Linked DNA regions of Homo sapiens: region 2 is linked to region 1. Evidence: fine-mapped expression QTL. Tissue or cell type: whole blood. Region 1 holds a variant in brackets; the other region holds the start of a gene. All regions are shown on one strand. Distances are from middle to middle. Region 1 has its middle 21 kb from the start of WWP1. Region 2 holds the start of WWP1 (WW domain containing E3 ubiquitin protein ligase 1).

Evidence for each region. PIP is the estimated chance that this variant, and not a neighbour inherited with it, causes the effect.
Region 2: it holds the start of WWP1, and the variant in region 1 is fine-mapped to the expression of WWP1 in whole blood (INTERVAL, PIP 0.92).

The regions. Positions count from the first base shown.
Region 1 is chr8:86,317,389-86,325,656 of GRCh38, reverse strand. No RefSeq gene overlaps it. Among named protein-coding and RNA genes, the nearest start is that of WWP1, 21 kb to the left of the region's middle. The variant G/A (reference allele first, on the strand shown) is at 4,101.
Region 2 is chr8:86,339,113-86,347,530 of GRCh38, reverse strand. WWP1 (WW domain containing E3 ubiquitin protein ligase 1) reads right to left here and starts at 4,984. Exons shown (of 25, transcript NM_007013.4): 1 at 4,601-4,984. WWP1-AS1 (WWP1 antisense RNA 1) reads left to right here and starts at 3,097. Exons shown (of 6, transcript XR_007060994.1): 1 at 3,097-3,258; 2 at 3,871-3,941; 3 at 4,255-4,449. RefSeq lists a silencer at 4,434-4,893.

The DNA of each region.
Region 1 (8,268 bases):
TGAAAGATGAGTGATTAATTTTATTTATTTATTTATTTATTTATTTATTTATTTATTTATTTATTTTTGAGACAGAGTCTCACTCTGTCACCCAGGCTGGAGTGCAGTGGCACAATCTCAGATCACTGCAACCTCCGCCTCCTGGGTTTGAGTGACTCTTGTGCCTCAGCTTCGCAAGTAGCTGGGACTACAGGTGTCCACAACCATGCCCGGCTAATTTTTGTATTTTTGGTAGAGACAGGGTTTTGCCATGTTGGCCAGGCTGGTCTTGAACTCCTGGCCTCAAGTGATCTGTCCCTCTCAGCCTCCCAAAGTGCTGGGATTACAGCCATGAGCCACCGAACCTGGCCGAAAGATGAGTGATTTAGACAAGTAAAAGAGGGGCTTAGGTGGGAAAAGATTCCAGCAAGGAGTAATAGCATGAACAGTCACAGACTACACAGGAAACCATAGAACCTAGTGTGTCACTAGTAAGTATACTTGCCCAAATATTATCAAAGATCTAATAGGTATTTTTTGATCAGATATGCATTACTTTTTATAATAGAGTTTTGCTTTATTTTACATGTTAGGAAAATAATCTACGAACCTTCTAGTATCTTCTGAATTCCTGTAAGCTCCATGTGAACAGAGATCAAATTTATCTTATTCTCTCCTGCATTTTAGCACCCAGTACAATGTCTGGCCCTTTGTAGGGATTCAACATCTAGTTGTTAAGCAAATTACTAAATTATTGAGCTTGTTAGTCTTTGCCAAAGTCGAATATAAATTTAGCCTTTAAATTATTCTTTAAATTTACTTTTAAAGACTCATGTTCTTGAACAACTTGCCTTTCTCAAACTGTCTTCAATAAAGGATAGCTTGATACTCCCTTTTATAATTCTTCCTATTTGGGGACTCTTTTTAAAATGCAAGTTTTGGTGTTGTTTTTCTCCCTATACATCCATCTATTCGCTATTTATTCAGCATATGCTTATTAAATACTTGATTATGTGCTGGCATTGTGCTACACACCAGGAGTAGAATACTGATGAGTTAGACCTGGACTAGGCTCCACTGGAGCTTATAGCCCAGGGAAAAAAGCAGGCAGATATTCAACAAATAATTTACAAGCACATTGTTGTTGCAAAACAGAAGTGAATAGTTCTATGAGAGTTTGTAATAATTTCTTTTAGCCTTTATTCAGTATGAATTATTATCTGATCATTATATAACATGTTTACTTTATCAAGTTCTTAGCTTACATTCTCCACTTTCTGCCTTAGTATACAACATTTATAGCTAATGTGGGGCACAAAGTAAGTACACTATAAATATTACTTGAATGAAAGAATAATTACTTTCTCATACAATTTGCATTTTATCCTGTATTATTTTGATCCTGTTGAGTACAAACACCTGCACTCTTTGTGGTAAGACAAATATAAGAATTATTCCCTTGATATATCTGTCAACTGGATGAAATAATGGGAATAGTGTAGGTGATGTGTGTTGTCTAAAATTAGGTGTACAGCACTTCAGTAGAGCCTAGATCTATAGTCTATTGGCTTAATTTCTGTGTAAAGTGAGGTTATTAACCACATCTATTTGGTTATATGATTTTAATCAATAAGTATTCATTAAAAATCTATGTAAGTTTTGTAGCATATGCTGAGGGGCATTCAAAGAAGAATAAAACAAGGCTTCTGCCCTACAGAAATTCAATCTAAATGCCTGTGACAAAAGAAGAGAAATACTTTTTGCCTATTAGGGAGGAAAGTAAGCCCTGTAAGAAAAGACATTCTACAAGAAGTGATGGTTAATCTATAACAGTTCTTGAAGAATGAATAAGACTTTGCCAAATAGATGGTAAAGGGAAAGGCATGCTAGAGAGAAGACTTCAGTTCTTCATGCTAGGGAGCATGTGCAAGTGCAAGGAAGCCTGACTCCCCTTTCTAGCCTATCAACTATTTTTTCTTTTTATACTTTAAGTTCTGGATACGTGTGCAGAACGTGCAGGTTTGTTACATAGGTATACACATGCCATGGTGGTTTGCTGCGCCCATCAACCTGTCATCTACATTAGGTATTTAGGTATTTCTCATAATCCTATCCTTCCCCTAGCCTCCCACCCCCCAACAGGCCCCGGTGTATGATGCTCCCCTCCCTGTGTCCATGTGTTCTCATTGTTCAACTCTTACTTATGAGTGAGAACATGTGGTGCTTGGTTTTCTGTTCCTGTGTTAGTTTGCTGAGCAGAAATACCATCTGACCCAGCAATCCCATTACTGAGTATATACCCAAAGGATTATAAATCTTTTTACTATAAAGACACATGCACACGTATGTTTATTGCAGCACTGTTCACAATAGCAAAGACTTGGAACCAATCCAAATGCCCGTCAATGATAGACTGGATAAAGAAAATGTGGCACATATACACCATGGAATACTATGCAGCCATAAAAAAGGATAAATTCATGTTTTTTGCAGGGACATGGATGAAGCTGGAAACCATCAACTATTTTTTATTTACATTCTTGTTCACTATCGCTTCACAAGTTCTTGCTTTGTTATGCTAATTCTGTTAGATCAAGATTTACAAAATGTCTATCTTTAGCATGTCTTCAATTTAATTTCCTTTGGAAAGTGGACAAATTAGAACTACATTCTGTCCCAAAAATGAGCAATTCCAACATTCATATAAGTCAGAGGTGCCTGGGTGCGGTAGTTCACACCTGTAATCTCAGCACTTTAGGGGGCCAAGGTGGATGGATTGCTGGAGTCCAGGAGTTCAAGACCAGCCTGGGCAAAATGGCAAAACCTGTCTACCAAAAAAAAAAAAAAAAAAGCCAGGCATGGTAGCCCATGACTGTGGTCCCAACTACTTGGGAGACTGAGGCAGGAGGATTGCTTGAGCCCAGGAGGTCAAGGCTTCAGCAAACCATGATTGCTCCATTGCACTCCAGCCTGAGTGACAGAGCAAGACTGTCTCAAAAAAAAAAAAAAAAAAAAGAAAAAGGAAAAAAAAGAAAAAGTTAGAGGCATCAGAATCTTTATGGTAACTACCACCTATCACGCAGTTGGCCTGAAAAGAGTGGCCTCTTTGGTAGTTGTGGGTGGTGGCTAGACTTTACAGCTTCACTGGACCTGAATGCTGATCATTTGCTTCGTGTTCACCATCTAAGAAAATGTTCCCCCAACCACACACGTGGCTATTGTGTTTGTAGCACAGGATTACAAATTCTCCAGCCCCAATGGCTAGTCACAGGTAAGTGGAAAAACAACCCAAAGCTCACTTGACCCAATTAAATTCTCTTTCACAAGAATTCAAACTAAAAGCCATAGAGTTTGACTTAGTAATCAGTGGTGGGCTGGAGCTGTAACATCTGGTCGAGTCTGAACCAAATTGCTTCACAGCAGGGCAGGGGCTCACGTAAAGCTGAAGTTTACCCAGGAACTGAAATGACGACCCTGGTAAAAGAAGCCTGGCTACATGAAGCAGAATGAAATTCAAGTACAGAGGGATGCAGAAAAGAAATCATGTTTCCTGAAAGAAAAAAGCAGAGAAAGTAGCTTGTTTGAAGATTGTTTTCAACATTTATGAGGCCTAGTGGCAGCATTTACAGTTGGATTATGTGAGATTTCCATGTATCCTTCAAATAAATTCCCTTTTCATCTTGTCTATTGGAATGTCTTTCTCAACACCCCAGGCAAATGGTTTTGGAATGAGAAGCTGCTTAGCTATTTCAGGGAACCCTATACTCTTTGGTAGAATGACCACACCCTTGACATAACAGGTCTTAACTAGGTATTCCCATGGCTGCCTGTGCTTCCTCTACTCATGCCCACATGAATGCCTCTCAGACTGTTGACATTTTTTGTAATGCACTGAGTTTTTCTCTGCCAGTTAGCAGGCCCAGTGTTTAGATATCTTACTCAGGATGCCCTACCACCAAGTGTTCAAATAATAACATCTTAACTTCAGTTGGCAAAATATTCTGCATAGTACAGATTTAGAAGGCATTGCTGGAACATTTGTAAGAACAGACATGTTGGCCAAAATCGTTGTGCTGACACAAGGAAATCAAAAAACCAGGTTTATCATGGATGTCATCATT[G/A]TGGGGCATGTCAGCAGCATGTTCCATCCAACTCACAATAGCTAGGCAGAGTTAGGCCCTGTGTAGGATTAGGCAAGCTTGACTTGCAACAGAAAGCAACCAGTATAGTGTGGGGATGGCAGTAGAGAAAGAAGAGGAGGCTCAAAGTTAAATGGAATCTGATATCAACAACATTGAGACAATCAAGAAAAACAATCCAGCAGACCATAAATCAGTGCATGCTTGGAGGGAGCCATTATTTCAATCAAGGAGTGTCTGCTGAAAGAGGCCTATAATTTCATAGCAGCTCAGAGCTACTGGACAACATTCCTACTTCTGGCTCCTAAAGAGCCTTTTGTAGCCAAGGAGGTCTAGGACCAGTTAGAAGACTTCAGAGCTATCGTCCAATAAGGATGAATGCATTGTCTTCTAATTCTTATAGGGGGTCTGATGGGTCAGACCTCAGTGGAGCCAGTCTGGTACCTTGAAGAGGATTTCATTTTACTAAATGTCAAGGTCAGTCTCTGTTATATTACTCTGGTTTAATTTCTTCATGATACTTATCGTCATCTGAAAATTGTATTTATTTGCTTATTGTCTGTCTCCTGCCCCTTCCAGTAAAATGTAAATAAATTCCTTTAGAGCAGAGACTTTAATCTGGTTTTTCTCCCCCAGTGCTGTGTTCTCAGCATCTGGAACAATGTCTGGCTTTTCATATGTTCTCAGTAAATATTTATTGAATAAATAAACAAAAGTCCATGAACTTGGTGATACAGCCATGTACTTTGAACGGTATAAGAGTCCTGGAGATCCAGACAGTCCTTGATTAGAATGCCTACATTTTAAACATATCTGGAAAACAACTGTCCCTGACTTCCCACCCTGTCCCCACCCAAATTCTGCCCTCAATTCTGATATTGTAAATTTTCCGAGAATGAAAAATAACCGTTCTTTTGGTAAGAAGAATATGCTTGCTTCTATTGAACAAGCCTCAGCCACAACCACGTTCTCTCTCCAGCCATCTGCCGAGATGACACTTCAACTTCCTCACCCCACCCCCACCCCCATTTTGTCTCTTTCTTCTTGATAAACAAACTCCTCAGTTCTCACAGATAATAAAACATGTCTCCATCAGGGAAGTGTAAGTGAGCCTATTTTCAGGAAACAGCTGAGATTCCTCATGTACTTTGCTTTTTTGAAAAGCAGCCACTTGGCTCAATATGTATACAGCACTTGTTTACTAATTAACAAACAGCCTCCCGCTGAGTCAGTCTTCCTTCCTCTCCCAATTTCCTTTTCCATTCTTAGAAAATTGTTTGAGTGAATAAAAACTTGGTCCAGGCCAGGCGTGGCAGCTCAAGCCTCTAATCCCAACGTTGCGGGAGGCCGAGGTGGCAGGATCACTTAGCCCAGGAGTTCCAGACCAGCCAGGGCAGCATGATGTAACCCCGTCTCTACAAAAAATTAGCCAGGCTTAGTGGTCTGTAGTCCCAGCTACCCAGCCCTGGAGGCTGAGGTGGGAGGAATACTCTAGCCTGGAAGTCCAAATTGCAGTGAGTCGTGATTGCACCACTGCACTCCAGCCTGGGCAACAGAGTGAGACCCTGTCTCTAAAAAGGAAAAACGAAACAAAACAAAAACTTGGCCCAGTGTTTCTGAACATGTTATGTGACTACATTTATTATCATGGACACCACCATCCTTCAAATACATGTCTCTTTAGGTTGCATAATCAAAGTGAAAATAATATTCTATTAACAAAAGTAACTTTTGAAGACACTAAGAGGATGTATGCTTTATATGATGACTATGCACACAATCTCTTTCTTTGAAAGCAAGAAGAGTAAATTTTATTAAGTTGCAGGATAAAATAATCCGCTTTAAAATCCAGTAATAATATTTGCATTAATGGTTAATAATCATCAATAAACAAACAGATATTTATTGACCACCTGTTATAGACAGTGTACTGTAATCGTTAATCTGTATGATACAAAGAAACATAAATGTGTCCCCAGATTTATTAGATCTATTTGATAGGATAGGCTATATGTTTGTTACCAAAAAAAAAAAAAGTTAACAACAATAGAGTTTATAGGAATGAATGATGACTTCTGTCAAAAGTGGTCACTGAAGATTTCAGAGAGAAGATAGGATTTAGGATAGGCTTTGGAGATTAGGTAACAGGAAATTATAGTAAGAGCTACTTCTTGTAAACCCTGGGAAACTTGTGAAAAGATACAGCAGATTTGAGTTTTATCTATGCCCCAAATTTGGAAAGATTAGAGCTTGAGTTGGGAAGATATTTTGCAATTTAACATCCTTTAAAAATTGTTGTATCATAAAAATTACATATTTTCCCTCTGGAGATGTAATTTCTTTCAGTGATGTTTCAGTTACTATTGCTGTGTGATTGCACCAACATTTAGTAGCTTACAACACCATTCCTTATGGCCATGGATTCTGTGGGTCAGAAACAAGACCAGGGCTCAGGGGAGTGACTTGTCTCTGCTTCCCAATATCTGGAACTTCAACAAAGGAGACTTGAAAGCTGAGGGTGACCTGATCGCTGGAGTCTGGAATCACCTGGAGACAAATTGATGCTGGCTTTTCGGTGGGACCTTAATCCCTCCGGAATCACTTACCAAAGCATTTACACATAGCTTCTCCACTTGGCTTGGGCTTCCTCTTATTGTGACAGCCTCAGGTAGTTAGGCTTCTTCCACAGAAGCTCACCGGACTCCAAAGATAAGCATCCCAGCAACTAAGGCAGAAGCTATACTGCCTTTTCCCTCCTAGTCTCAAAAGTCAAGCTGCGTCACTTCTACAGTGTTGTTATAAGAGAATCACAAGTCCTACAACCAGGCCCCTCCTCATAACACTTTACTGTCCTCACCTTAATTCAGGTGAACTTTGTCCTTCATAGTGATGACGTCTTAGGCACTTACTAGTTTTTAATTTACATAAGCTATATTTTACATTCTTAACAAGCTCTCCTGGTGTCTTCCTTTTTCCTTGGTTTCTGTATCATTTTATTTTGGTTTTCTTCATGTTACTCTCTATTGTCTCCTGTTTGGTCTCATTTATGATCACGCTCCCTTCTTTTTTCAACCACCACTTCTGGGTGGATGTTCCTTGGGGCTTCATTTTTTTTTTCTGAAGACAGGGGCTCACTCCATCACCCAGGTTGTAGTGCAATGGTGCAATCACAGCTCACTGCAGCTTCGACTGGCTCAAGTGATCTTCCCATCTCACCTCAGTCTCCCAAGTAGTTGAGACCACAGGCACACACTACTCCTGGATAATTTTTTTTTTATTATTTATAGAGATGAGGTTCCCCTATGTTGCCCAGGCTGGTCTTGAACTCCTGGGCTCAAGTCATCCTCCTGCCTTGGCCTCCTTGGGGCTCCATTTTAAATTCTCTTCATCTTATAAACTCTTTAGAGCTTTAATTCTTTCTTTCCTATAACCCCTTTCCTGATAAATTAGTTCCATATATTTATTTCCACAACCACCTTGATCACTGGTAGTCTCCACTTACAAACTGTATGTTGAACCCTGTGTGCTCCTGGGTTTCAGATTCATATTTCCAAAAGCCAATTTGATATCTGTATAAGTCCTCCAGGAACCTCTACCTTCTCTCAAAGTTTAAACTCTCAAAGTTTAAAGTTTTTCCTTCTCCAGCTAGAACTATATCACTAATGACTGCTGTGGCAACCATTTTGATGACCACATCAGTTTAATTACTTTGATAAACTATTGTCACCTTGCAAATCCTCTTTGAAATGAAAAATTCATAAAAGGACTGCTAAAACTAAGAAAGCAGTTTTAAGTTTTAGTGGGCTTTATAATTTTCCATCTCTTTGAAAAAACAACATTAGTTCTATGGTATTGGAAGAAGATATTCAGAACTCCATTATGAAGAATTATTTATGACTCAACTAATTGTAAAACATACCATGATAATGTGGTCTAGGTCCAATTTTCCAGTGTATTGGTGTGTATCATATATAAGCCCTGCCCAATATGAGGTTTCTTTAGTTCAGTGTAAAAATATTTTCTCATTAGAGAGAGAAGATGGTTCCTGAAGCAGTTAGGCAAAAGTCATTACTAGTCTCTTGTCAAGATGATTCATTTTTATTTTTATGCATCTATTCATGCATAAAGGTGAGATTTAAAAACAATTAAT
Region 2 (8,418 bases), 22 kb before region 1:
GTACAAAAGTTTAACACATTCCAAACAGGTAAATTCAAATCCTTCACATACAGCTCTTAACTAATGATGTTCCATTGTACATGAAGAGTAAGAAGTCTGGTGGGAAAAGAATACTGACATAGGAACAAAAATAAGGGTTTTAGTTGTAGTTCTAATTGTGGCCACTAACTAGCCACATACTTTGGAAATTTAACTTTTTAAACTTTTTTTTTAGCCTCAGCATATTCATCCAAAAAGCAATGATTGGCTGGAAGCGATGGCTCACGCCTGTAATTCCAGCACTTTGGAAGGCCATGGTGGGAGGGCCACGAGTCCAGGAGTTCGAGGCCAGCCTGAGGAAACACAGCAAGACCCCATCTCTATAAAAAATTTTAAAAATTTAGCTGGGTGTCATGACATACACCTGTAGTCCCAAGTACTTGGGAGGCTGAGGTCTAGGCTTCAGTTTAGCCATGACTGTGCCACTGAACTCCAGCCTGGGCAACAGAGCAAGACCCTGTCTCAAAAATAAATAAATAAAATAAAATAAAATAAAATATAAAGCAGTTATTACTTCCTAACACACCAACTTATCAGTTGTCATGAGAACCAAATGATAAATATAGTTATTATTTACAAATGTGAAATGCTATACTAACATAAGGTATAGTACAATTCTTAATGCCAGCAAAAACAATAAAATTCATCTGTGTATGTTTTTATCATTTTTCCTCCATTAAGTATTAGTAACTAGTTCCTTGGATACCACTATAAAGGGCAATTTATTGGATTTTCCAATGCTCATTATAATTGTATCATATTTTTATACAAAGAGTAAAAAACAACAGTCTTTCTAATAATTATGAAATCAAAGTTTATTAACATGTAATAACATGCTATGATTACCTATTACCAGGGAGATAATCTTACAGGTGCAGAAAAGTCAACTGTTTACCAATCGCACTACACTTTAACCGTACTAGCTAGCTACTTAATCCACCCAAAAAAAATTGAGTAGGAATCTTCATTTACATTGTGAAGTCTCCATTTTTATTTGATAAAGGCTTCCTGAAAGAAAAGAATATTCTGAAGGTATAAATGAACAGAGAAGATAAAGTTCTTTTTTTTTGAGACAGAGTCTCGCTCTGTTGCCCAGGCTGGAGTGTAGTGGCGCAATCTCGGCTCACTACAAGCTCCGCCTCCCGGGTTCACACCATCCTCCTGCCTCAGCCTCCCAATAAAGTTCTTAAAGTTTCTTATTTCACTTACATCACCTCTCTCCTCCCTACTCCCCAGCCCAAAGTGAGACATACAAAGAAAGTAACAATCCAAATGAATGATCTGATATTGCTAACTGCTCTTCTCTACCCAATTCATCCCTCAGACTCACCAGCTCTCATGCACATATTAAACAAGGAGAGTAGATACTCTGATGAAAGTCTAGGACTCGAGAATCACAAAATGTTAAAAACTAGAAGGAATCTTGTGGGATCATCTAGTCTTACTGACAAGGTCATTTAAAGGCAGTAACTATATTTAATTGATGGTAAAGCCACTGCATTATCTTCATACATGAAAGAACACCATCATTGTCAACAATCTCCTGATTCCACTTTACCCACCAGCTGAATGATGCTTCAGGCAAATCATTTAAACTCCAGGAATAGTTTATTGTGTAATATAATAGCAAATAACATTAGTCAAAATTCTCTGTAAACTGTAAACCACAACACAAATGTAATATTGTGTTTCTGTATATATACAGCATATCTCTACAGTAAGAGTTCTTATCAGTACACAGAAGAACCTGAAGGTTCTACTGTTTTAAAAAGCTCCCAGTAGGCCCGGCAGGGTGGCTTACGCTGTAATCCCAGCACTTAGGAAGGCCAAGGCAAGCTGATCACTTGAGCTCAGGAGTTCAACACGAGCCTGGGCAAAATAGTGAGACCCCATCTCTAAAAAAAAAATACAAAAATTAGCCGGGTGTGGTGGCAAGCGCCTGTAGTTCAAGCTATTCGGGAGACTGAGGCAGGAGAATCTCTTGAGCCTGGGAGGCGGAGGTTGCAATGAGCCCAGAAGGCGCCACTGCACTCCAGCCACAGGGACAGGAGTGAAAGAAATCCTGCCTCGAAAATAAAAAAAGCTCCAAGAAATTCTGAGATGAGTGTCATGGATGACTTTCAGGTGTTCCATGGACTCCCCTAAAATTATATCCACAAAGCATAGGCGCATATGGAAATTTTCCAGGCCAGCATTTTACCAAGAATTAGTAATCTCCAAAAAGTTGTAAAGTAGCACACATATGCTGAGGGTAAAGCTTCATGATCTTGCTCAAAATGGTACCACTGTTCTCCCAACCAACCTGGATCAGAATCAGTTATTTTTACTTTCATTTGCCCTCTCATCAAATTTTGGCTATTCGACTTCCTTTCTTCCTTTCCATTCGCGTGCACCACAGCTCAGATCCTCACTATCCATGACTACAACAACTGGGAGGTCTTTCTACCTCCAGGGTCTCCCTACCTCAGTTCACACTACAGACCTCTATCCCACTAATCCTTCTGAAACAAAGTGTTCAAATTGTTTCACTCCCAATTCAAAATCATCTGTGGAAGCCCCACCACCGGGTAAATCCAAGGTCATAAGTCTGGCATTAAAAACAACCCATAAACTGGTCCAAATTTTTACTTCAAGTTTTATCACCCTTTATCCTGGTACAAATAAGTTTATGTTCCACCCAAACATAATTACCTGCCTTTCCCCAAACAGGAACTCTGTGCTCTCTTAGAGATACCTCTCTGCTAGGATTACCTTTCCTGCCTATCCAAAGTCATAATCGTCCTTCAAAACCACGATTTCAGAAGCCAGGAGCTCTACAAACTAACCCTCTTATCCCTACCTTGCCAAGTAAGATCTGAGCTCTACTCTCTTTGAAGTTGACTTCTGAGAGGATTTTGGTACCATTTATGAAACTTATATATTAAAAGACAAATAAGGCATTTGTGTATAGCACTATCTACCTAATTAGTGTGAAGGCAGAAATTGCTAATCGGTTCATCTTTGTATTTCCCAAAATACCTCCCACAATTATGCAGTAAATGCTTAACAACTGTACAAGGAAGTAAAGGAAATTTCAGCCACCGTGGGGTAAACAGCAAAGATTACCATCTCTTTGAAGGCAGAAACTTTATCTGCGACATCCTGTATTATGCCGGTAGCTCATAATTATTGCTTTTCAAAACCCTGATGTAGATCTTACCAGCAGTTTCACATTTTAAGGTAAGAACTATCTGAAAATGTTGATAAGCTATGTCCCAAAGAACTATTCCACATACTTTACAATTCTCAATCTGAGTAGCTCCCAATACTTGGCCACTACACTTTCCATTTTTTAAAATACTAACCATTTATGAAAAATGATCATTTCTAGTTGCAGCTAATTTACTACTTGATGGCTAAAAACAAGTCACACAATAAAAGAACGACTTTCTTCTTTAAAAGGTGCATTTTGCTTGTATAATACACACAGATTTGGTGAGGCAGGTAAAGTGGATTTACACATAAACATGAACTCTTGTTAAAAAAAAAAAATGCAGGTAACTGTAAACCAACTATTTCAGGTAAAAACACCAAACGGGGAAAACAAAGATAATTTTGGACATGATTTTTTTTCCCACTACTATTACCAGTAACATTTTAAAGCAGAAACACAAAATCTTGTTCCACATTAACCTACACACACACAGAAAAAAATTTGTTAAACTTATCAAATAGAAAAAGAAGGCAAAATCAAGCCCCTGGAAAATATTTTATTCTGAAAGAGTAAAAATGTCAAAATTATAACAGACACTACTCTTCTTTGGTAATGAAGGTTTCATATATTTACCACAGCAGAGAAAACTCCAAATCGGCAGAGCAAAGAAAGGACTGTGAACAAGACTGATCATTTAAAGGTCGTAAAGGTAAGGAGCAAACTACAAAATTAAATTTTTTTAAAAAAAGAACACGAAGATGAAAGGAGAGTCTGTAAGTCACAGACAAGATAAGGACTGGTAAAATCTGCAAGGTCACTGGAACCTACCAGGTCACAAAAGGTGGAGGTGGGGGTTGCGCTGGGGGGGCGGGGGATGGGGAGCTGCAGAGTCGGTGAAGAACGGAGAGTGATAAAAACATGTCAGAAAAAGACGTTCCAAAGCTGGAGTCCTTGGTTTGCAACGCTGAAATTGGGGTGAAAGTCAGGGAACGGGCAATGAGTCCATGTATTTGTGTTTTCAGGGAGGTGTTAGGGAAAGGTGGAGGAAGGCGAAGAGAAGGCTAAGGAAGCCTAAGAACTGCGGCTGCAGAGTCACGGAAACACTTCGCTCCGCTCCAGGATCACTGGCACAGGCCTTTGCCAGGGCGAACTCCGGGCAAGACCCGTGACCCCACCCCAGAAAACTCCCGACTCCCGGGCTGGAGAAGGTAGCCAAGGTAGGGCGGACCGTCCCCCGACGGGTCCTAGGAGGGTCCAGCCCGGGGGCGGACGGCGCCGGGCGCCCAGCACCGCGGCCAAGGCTCAGGGCCCGTGCCCCCTCCCGCCCTGCCCATTCGCACCCCCAGCCCCGCGCCGCGCCGTCCTTACCCGGCGCGAAGCTGTCGGCTCCCGGCAGCCGGGCGGCCACGGCAGCGGCACCTCCTCCTGCGGCGGGCGCCCTCACCCTTCCGCGCCCAAGATCGCCATCTCGCAGCAGGCGCGGCGGCAGCAGCCACCCAGGCGTCGGCCCCGGCAGCCCAGGCCGCCAGCAGCCACTCGGAACCCGCACGCGGAGCTCGCCGACACCCGACCCTCCCCCCACCCCCACCCCGTCCACGCGCCACCCCCAGCCGACCCCACACCTCCCTTCCTCGGGAGCGCGCCGCGTGGCCGCGTCGCCGGCGCCGCGCCCTAAGCGCGCGCCTCCCCGCCGGCCCCGGCACCGCGCGCTACGCCGCGGCCGCCCAAAGCCTCCAACTCCGGACCCGGAATCCGCCTCCCCCGAGCATGCGCAGCGAGGGCGCTCGGATGCTGCCTTAGGAAAACTCCGCTCCTCCGGGTCTTCCGAGCAGTCTAGCGGAGGGGGACGGACAGCCAATAGTAGGGAGGGGCGGGGCCTGAACGTGTGGAAGGGGCGGGGCCGCCGCTGAGATTTGGGAAGAGGCTGCTCTAAGCTCGCGCTGGGCACTGCTAATTTGACTTTCCGGTCGGCGGCTGATCCCGGAGCAGGACTTCTTAAGGTCCGGGGGCAAAAGTAGGCTGTCCATAAATACTCCTTGACCTAGCTGGGTGACCTCGAACACATTGCAAGAGTAAATAATTGCATTTAGCCATTGGTCATACCCGAAGACTTTCAGTCCATTTTTTATTAATCAAAACGTTCATCTGTGGAAGCCCCACCACCTAGTCCTCACTCACATCAGCCCGGTGATAAAGCAGATACTTATTGACCGAGTATACGTGTCCGCACAATTAACGCACACAACAATCTGACAAAGTAGTGTCTACTGTCTGCATTTTACAGAAAAGTCAACTAGTTTAGAAAAGTACTGTTGGTTATGTGTATTGCTTTTAGAAGAAAGGCCAATGTGCAAATAGAAGTCAGTGGGACCACATTGCTTACCAGGTGACCCGGTTTCTACTTCAGAGAAGCAGAAGCCTTCAGGCATGGATTTCTACAGCTTTTGCCCAACCACCTGACCAACCCCCATAGATTATATCTACGTCCACACCCAGACTTACTAGTTTTCCTTCTATCTCGGAGGCTAGATGTCCCTGCTCCTCTCCACTGCCTGCTCCCCACTGTGGGCGGTCCTTGGCACATCTTTAACTTCACCCTCTCCACTGCCTACAACTCCTCAGCATAATCACGTTTTAAGATTAGGTCCTAAATTTTCCCTTGATTTTAAAACCTCTGGTTCTCTCTCCCCTTCCATTTTAACTGAGCTTTTTGAAAGAACTGTGTACCAAAAACAACCCCAACACTTCATGAGTGTGTACAGAATTCAACAAGTATCTCTTGACTGAACAATGCACATTCCCGCCTACCTCCATGCATTAGTTCTTGTCCTCTGGCTTCATAGTTGAAATTGGTGCACATTATATCCACAAAGATCATTCGAAAATATACATCTGTGTCATTCCACTGCTTAAAATCATTCTTTGGCTTTTCGGAGCTCTCCTGACAAAGATTAACGTGATATTCAAGGTTCCTTTGATGCTCACATGCTCTATCTCTCCTGTTATGAAAAACTCTTCACAGTGCCCCATATGTGCCCACTCATCTCTGCTTTAAACATGTACTAAGATTTTCTTCATCTTTTTGCTTTTGCTGTCTGGTCCCTTTAAATAGATGCAATAATGTGCTTACAAACACGTCCTCAGAAATTCCGTAGGTATTCCCCAGCAGGGATCTGGACTCCTTCTCCAGAATGCATGCAGGCCTCCTCTTCCTGCTCTGTGTCTCACTTTCAGCTCCCCTCATTGCTCAATTTCCTCCCCGTTCAGAAGCTCTTAGTACTCACCTAGTCCTCAAGCTGACACCCAATATTGAACCAGCCTTTTGTTATTGACTGTTTGGTTTCAAATGAACAATATTATAAATAGTATTCCATAACCATTGTTCATGTCCTTATTAACTGTCTTAGATAAATTATTAAAAGTAATAAAAAAGTATGAACAAGTTTAGCCCTTTTGAAACATATTGGCAACTACCTTCCAGAAAGAGCATAGGCTCAGGTATCACATCGCCCAGCATCAAAACACAGCTCTGCCACCCAGTGCCACATTCTGACTTTCACAGGCCCTAGGTGCTTATACCTGTGTGGGCCTCATCTTCCATAAAATAATACTACAAAATATATTTTATTACTGCATTGGTATGAAGAAAAAGATATTAACATTATACATTAAAATATTTTCTTTGACCTAAATATTCAATTTTTTGCCTTCTGATTTTAAAAGAAATTAAAACATTTTTATGGGCCCCCGAAAGTGTTATAAGCCTGAGGCACTGTGTCTACTGTGCCTAATGGATAACCTGACCCTCCTGCTGCCTATGAGCTGAGAGATTTGGCCAATTGCTTAATCTAATTGTGTCTCAACTAGAAAATTAATATAGTGCTTCCACATGTTGTATTAAAAAATATATATAAATTGCTATAAATAACACGCATAGAGCTACTTAACACATGAGCATGGCACATAATCAAGAAATGATTGTCATAATGGTTATCAATTTTCCCACAACACTACATGACAGTATGTGATTGTCCTTCTTCCATGTGCCCAAATCATCATGGTATGTTTTCATATGTGTATGTATGGTAGCTTATTGTTTGTCCTTTGTCCATTTTCTTACTGAGGTATTTCACAAAAGGGTGCTTCACACAATGTAGATATTAGTCCTTTGTAAAACTATTGATCTTTTCCATTTTTGTATTCTTCCATTGTTTTTTACTTCATACATCTTTCCCATCCTGAGATCATATAATTCATCTGTCTTTACTTTTTTCTACTTGTTTGACTATTTTACTTTTTTCATTAAATAATTTAATTTTCTTGGATTTATTTTGCAATGATAATCTAACTTTTATTCCTTTAAAAATAGCTCATGGTATTCCCCCAAACCATTTGTTTAAAAAATTGTTCTCTAACTGTAGTGGTTTTAAAATAGGTCTACAGGCCGGGCACTGTGGCTCACACCTGTAATCCCAACACTTTGAGAGCCCAAAGCAGGTGGATCACTTAAGGCCAGGTGTTTGATACCGGCCTGACCAACATGACAAACCCTGTGATATGGTTTGGCTGTGTCCCCACGCAAATCTCATCTTTTTTTTTTTTTTTTTGAGATGGAGTATTGCTCTGTCATCCAGGCTGGAGTGCAGTGGTGTGATCTTGGCTCACTGCAACCTCCACTCCTGGGTTCAAGTGATTCTCTTGCCTCAGCCTCCCGAGTAGTTGGGATTACAGGCACATGCTACCACACCTAGCTAATTTTTTTTTTAATTTTTAGTAGAGACGGGGTTTCACCATGTTGGCCAGGCTGATCTTGAACTCCTGATCTCAAGTGACCCTCCTGCCTCGACCTCCCAAAGTGCTGTGATTACAGGCATGAGCCACCATCCCTAACCCTAATCTCGTCTTGAATTGTAGTTCCCATAATATCCACGTGTTGTGGGAGGGACCCAGTGTCAGGTAATTTAATCATGGGGGCGGTTACTCTCATGCTGTTCTGGTGATAGTGAGTGAGTTCTCACAAGATCTGATGGTTTTATAAGGGGCTTTTCCCCCTTTTGCTCAGCACTTCTCCTTGCTGCCACCATGTGAAGAAGGTTGTGCTTGCCTCCCCTTCTGCCATGATTGTAAGTTTCCTGAGGCCTCCCCAGCCATGCTGAACTATGAGTCAATTAAACCTCTTTCCTTTA